Regions from separate parts of the Homo sapiens genome. Here region 2 is linked to region 1. The links come from fine-mapping of genetic effects on gene expression. A gene starts in region 1. The other region holds a variant in brackets. All regions are shown on one strand. Distances are between the middles of the regions. Region 1 holds the start of SAMD11 (sterile alpha motif domain containing 11). Region 2 overlaps PLEKHN1 (pleckstrin homology domain containing N1).

Evidence for each region.
Region 2: its variant is fine-mapped to the expression of SAMD11 in caudate (GTEx, PIP 0.94).

What each region holds. Positions count from the first base shown.
Region 1 is chr1:922,643-925,387 of GRCh38, reverse strand. It overlaps SAMD11 (sterile alpha motif domain containing 11), which reads right to left and starts at 1,465. Exons shown (of 14, transcript NM_001385641.1): 1 at 440-1,465. The coding sequence starts at 956. It overlaps LOC107985728 (collagen alpha-1(III) chain-like), which reads left to right. Exons shown (of 5, transcript NR_168405.1): 2 at 1,927-2,113; 3 at 2,245-2,375; 4 at 2,653-2,716. RefSeq lists enhancers at 1-176, 1,842-2,420.
Region 2 is chr1:974,752-977,540 of GRCh38, reverse strand. PLEKHN1 (pleckstrin homology domain containing N1) reads right to left here. Exons shown (of 16, transcript NM_032129.3): 16 at 1,676-2,789. It overlaps PERM1 (PPARGC1 and ESRR induced regulator, muscle 1), which reads left to right. Exons shown (of 4, transcript NM_001394713.1): 3 at 917-1,042; 4 at 1,272-2,343. The coding sequence ends at 1,369. Among named protein-coding and RNA genes, the nearest start is that of PERM1, 5.9 kb to the left of the region's middle. The variant T/C (reference allele first, on the strand shown) is at 1,326.

The DNA.
Region 1 (2,745 bases):
GCCGCCGCTCGGGCTCCGCGCGCGCCCCCGCGCCGCCCCGCAGCCTCCCCCGCCGCGCGCTCGCACCCGGCCGCACGTGCGCCCCTCCAGTCTCCCCCGAACCCGGGGCTCCGCGCCCTCCCAACCCGCCTCCTGCCCGCTCTCTCGAGTCCCCGTAAACTTCCTTCGGGCCTTAAGGCCCAGGAGCCTCGCAGAGACCTTCCGAGCGGAGGGAGCGGCCCGCGAGCCCCAAGCGCTGTGGCCCAAGCTGGGGGGAGGTGCAGCGGGGGGCGATCTGTCCGTGTTCACCGAGGCCTCCGCGCGCGGCGGGGGTGTCCCCGCGCAGCCCTGGAGCTGCAGCGCCCCCTCGGCCGAGCCGGAGGCTCCCGGGTGTCCGAGTCGGGTAGGGGGTGGGGTCGGGGCCCGCGGGTCCCGGCAGCGAAGGGAGGGGCGGCGGCACCTTTGTGGCGGATGCTGCGCTTCCAGTCCTTGGCCGTCTCGCGGCCGCTGACGAACTGGAACTCGTTGGGCGTGAGCCACTCGCCGCGGTGGCGGATGGACGGGCCCTTGCTGCCCTGGCAGAGTTTGCGCACGTAGAGCAGCGCGCGGTTGGCGCCGCACTCCACCTCGATGCACGGCTCGCCGTTGTCCAGCAGCGGCTGGAAATCCGGGGCCGCGGCCGCGGTGGCCGAGAAGCGCTCGAGGGCCAGCGGGTCCCTGGGCAGGTGGAGGTGCGGGGCGGCCTCGTGCAGGCTGAGGTAGGCGCGCGGGGGGCGGAGCGGCGGGGCCAGCAGAGCCTCGTAACCGGCGGCCGAGGCGGGCAGCGAGGCGGCCGGGGGGAGGGCGGCCGCCGCGGGCAGTGGCGCCAGGTAGCCTGGCAGCGGCGGCAGCGGCAGCGCGGCCAGGGTCGGGTGGAACGTGGCCAGAGCCAGGGCCAGGTCCTCGCGGCCCGGGAACTCCTTCTTGACCGCCGGCATGGCGCCCCGGTGGCTCCGCAGCCCCGCTCTCCGCCGGCGGCAGCAACTTATTCCGGCCCGGGCTGGAGTTGGGTCGCGGGGGCCGGGGAGGCGCCTGGCCGCGCGCCCACGCCGTCCGCTAGTGCGCCCCGGCGCCCGCAGCCGCCGCCTACGCGCCGCCCGCCAGGCCTCCCCGGACTGCCCAGCCGGCCGGCGGGGCCTCAGAGGCCGGAGACATGGAGCTGCTATCGATCCCGGATCGACTCGCCGAGCGCCGCAGTTCCAGGGCCTCGGGGCTCCCCGGGGCGTCTGGAGTCCCGCGCCCCGGCCACCAGCGCCCGCGCCCGGGGCAGTCCCACGCCCGGCTCGCCGACCCACCCGCCAGGCCGAGCCCGGCAGCGAGGAGTCGCGGAGTCCCCGCCCCTCTCGGGGGTCCCAAGCCCCCGCCCCGCCGCCCGGGCCGCGTCAGTCGTGCACCCGCGTCCACTGGCGCGCGCCCGCCCGGCGGGGACTTGGGAGACTCCGCCGCCGACGCCGCCGCCACAACTTGGCCCATTTAAACGGCCCCGGCGCGGCGGGCGGCGCGGGCTCCCGCGGGGGGTGCGTGACGGCCGACTCGGGGCATCCGGCGGCGGCAGCGGGACAGGGCTGCGGCCCCCGGCACTATCCCGAGTACCGAGTCACTGCGAGCGGCTGGAATCCAGGACTCCGCGCGGGACTGGGATGGGCTGGGCTGGTCGCGGACCGGGCTCCTCTCGGAGGGAGGGAGCTGGGGGCTGCTCGCCGGGGTGTGAGCGTGCGCCGGCGGCTCTGGGACTTTGCGCAGCGAATCTGATGGTGGGCGTTGGTGTCCGGGAGGGCGTGGGTGGTCTCAGTGCACCTGCAGGGAGCGAGGTTGTGGATTTGTAGTGTGTTGCCTGGGCAAAGTGTTCTGTGAATAACAGGGCAGCACCTCCCCGCCCACTCGTGCCCCTTCCTATGCACTTGACAGGAGTGAGTTCGCCCGAGCCACGGAGTTCCTGTTCAGTCTTTTGCAGAAGACGCTGAGACAGAAAGGTCAAGTAACTCTCCTGAAGTCACACAGCTGTTTCAAATGCAGGATGTCTCACACCAGGACCGCGCCAGGACCATGGTGTGGGGCAAGAGCTTCCTGTCACCCCACACCTCCCAGCAGGAAGGTGGTGTGGATCCGAGGCAGGGTGAGGGTGGGGGATAGCGGGTTGGCAGAGTGCACGGCCTCCCACTAGGAGGAGCAAGGCTAGTGAAGCAGGACCGGCCACACCACGTCCACCTTGGTGCCTTCTGACAGGTCAGTCTGGGCCCCAGTCCCTGGTTCCTGGTGAGCTTCCCATCACCCCCCACCTCCCTGCGTGCCCAGATCGGCATTGCATCTGGAGCGTTCCGAAGAGAAACACAACCTGGGGGCGTTGGTAACAGCAGGTGAGACAGCCTTGTCCTGCGCTGCTGTGCGGTGTTGCATCCACTAGAAAGGGGCCTCCTGTTCTGACCCTGGCCCCTGCCCTTGAGATGCAGCTGGCATGTCCCTGTGGGCATCTCCCAGAGCAGGTCCAGGGGTGAGTGGGCCACAGGCCTGTTTGCACAGGTGCCTTCTTCGAGGGAGGGAACAGCCCACCACCACCTCCTGCCAGACCAGCTTCCTTGAGCATAAACCTGACCCTGGGTGACCACGCTGGGCTCCTTCACCTTATCTCACCAGAGGCTTCTGCTGGTCCCACAGCCAACCCGCGGAGTGAGGTCTGGGCCAGGAGTGCTCTGCTCAGGCAAGGAACATGCCCAGAAGCCTCCCCCG
Region 2 (2,789 bases), 52 kb before region 1:
GTGGGGGGAGCGGGAGGCGGTTCCCGGGGTTGGTGGGGGGAGCGGGAGGCGGTTCCCGGGGTTGGTGGGGGGAGCGGGAGGCGGTTCCCGGGGTTGGTGGGGGGAGCGGGAGGCGGTTCCCGGGGTTGGTGGGGGGAGCGGGAGGCGGTTCCCGGGGTTGGTGGGGGGAGCGGGAGGCGGTTCCCGGGGTTGGTGGGGGGAGCGGGAGGCGGTTCCCGGGGTTGCGGGGGGAGTGGGAGGCGGTTCCCGGGGTTGGTCGGTGGGGGCAGGCGGTTCCCGGGGTTGGCGGGGTGGTGGGAGGCGGTTCCCGGGGTTGGTGGGGGGAGCGGGAGGCGGTTCCCGGGGTTGGTGGGGGGAGCGGGAGGCGGTTCCCGGGGTTGGTGGGGGGAGCGGGAGGCGGTTCCCGGGGTTGGTGGGGGGAGCGGGAGGCGGTTCCCGGGGTTGCGGGGGGAGCGGGAGGCGGTTCCCGGGGTTGGTGGGGGGAGCGGGAGGCGGTTCCCGGGGTTGGTGGGGGGAGCGGGAGGCGGTTCCCGGGGTTGCGGGGGGAGTGGGAGGCGGTTCCCGGGGTTGCGGGGGGAGTGGGAGGCGGTTCCCGGGGTTGGCGGGGGGAGTGGGAGGCGGTTCCCGGGGTTGGCGGGGGGAGTGGGAGGCGGTTCCCGGGGTTGGCGGGGGGAGTGGGAGGCGGTTCCCGGGGTTGGCGGGGGGAGTGGGAGGCGGTTCCCGGGGTTGGCGGGGGGAGTGGGAGGCGGTTCCCGGGGTTGGCGGGGGGAGTGGGAGGCGGTTCCCGGGGTTGGCGGGGGGAGTGGGAGGCGGTTCCCGGGGTTGGTGGGGGTGGGGGCAGGCGGTTCCCGGGGCGGGCGTGTGCGGGGCCATCTCTGAGTGCAGCCGTGGGGCTGAAGGTGAGCTTCTGTCCTAGGGGAGCTCCGGGGGCCTGTCCCATCATTTGCCTTCAGCCAGAATGACATGTGCCTGGTGTTTGTAGCTTTTGCCACCTGGGCTGTGAGGACGTCAGATCCGCATACCCCAGACGCCTGGAAAACAGGTTTGGGTGCCTGGGGGCAGAGGGAGCTGCGCCTAGAAGCCAGACCGAGGGGCGCTGGCAGGACGAGGGGTGCACGGGGGCCCCGGGGCTCACCCCTGACCTGCTCCCCCCAGGCTGAGCTGCGGCCCTGGCCGCACCGACCTTGCCCGCCCTTTGAGGGCTGGGTCTTGCGGGCAGACGGTGCCGACAGCCAGGCTGGCCCTCAGAAGAGCCTGTGCTTCTCTTGCAGCCTTGCTGGCCAACGTCGGCACCATCTCTGCCATCCGCTACTTCCGCCGGCAGG[T/C]GGGGCAAGGGCGCCGCAGCCACAGCCCCAGCCCCAGCTCCTAGGAGCCAGGCCCGGGCCAGGGAGATGCAGGATGAGGAGACGACCACAGGCGCCCAGGGCAGGACGAGGTGCCGCCCTCGCCCGGGCCCTCTGACCCCTCTCTTCTACCGCGTCCAGGAGGGGGGCGTGTCCTGGTGCTGCTCCCTCCGACTCACCTGAGGATCCAGCCAGTGACCACGGCCACTCCCCACGCCTGGGAGGGAGGTGCTAAAGTCTGGGTGGGTGGAGGGCAGGCAGGTGGCTGGGTAGGAGGGTGGCCAGATTCACAGATGAGAACACAGGGCATTCGGTTAATTTCAGACAGGCAATAGTGGGGAGGTCATTTTACTAAGAAGTTGTTGTTTATCTGAAATCAAATGCAACCGCACCCTGCGTTTCTTCTGGGGTGCAGGGGGAGCTGAGTGGCAGGACAGGACTTGGACCTCGGAGGGGTCTGAGCAGCAAGACACTCCGGCTGGAGCTCTGGGCAGAGGCAGGGGAGAGGACACAGGGTGGCCTCAAAGAGGGGATGGGCAGCCTCCTCACAGGTGGGCTGGGCTGGCAAGGGCTCCAAGGCCCATCACTCTTGATCCTCAAAGGACTGTGGCCAAGGCCTCTGCGGGCTCTGGCCTGAGACAGCGAAGGCTCTGCCTGCCCCTCCCCAGTGCAGCAGCCCCTGCAGGGTGGGGGTCTGTGGCAGAGCCGCGAGCCCCTCCCCGGGAGCCCTGGGTGCAGGTGCAGAGGGAGAATTCGGTGGCCTCAGATGGAGGGCTGGGCTCCTGGGGTTGTCCCGGGGGCTCCTGTGGGGCAGCTGGGGACCCACAGCCAAGAGGAGTCAGAGATGAGGTGGGAAGGTCGGTGAGGGGCCCGAGGTGGCAGAGGAAGGGGGCTGCCTGGCTGGGTGCTGGGTGGGGGTCCTCAAGACTGTGGGAGACCCTGGCTGCTGAGCAGAGAACACATGGATGCAGCACCAATAAAATTCTATCTTTTCTTTTTCTTTCTTCCTTTTCTTATTCTCTCTCTCTCTTTCCTTCTCTTCTCTTCTCTCTTCTCTTCTTTTCTCTCTTCTCCTCTCTCTCTTCTCTCTTTTTTCTTTCTCGTCCGGTGGTGTCAACGTCTCCCGTGCTGCCCTGTGGTGCGCGCCAGGCCACACAAGGACCCACCCACCCTCCTCCTCGGGGCACCCTGGCTTGTGCTCCTCACACCTTGCTGACCTGTGACCCTCATGCCCTCTGACCTCACATACTCTGACCCTGCTGACCTTTCTCTGTCCTCCGACCTTCACGCCCGTGCTGCCCTCCCACTCCCAGCGAGTCTCCTCCCTGACTCCTGGCGGGCTGAGCTGAGGGCCGACCCTGTGGACGGCCAGGACCTCCCTGACCTGTGACCCAGCCTCGCTGGCCAGGGCATCCTTTGGATGGGGCCCCTCCCACCCTTCCCTGC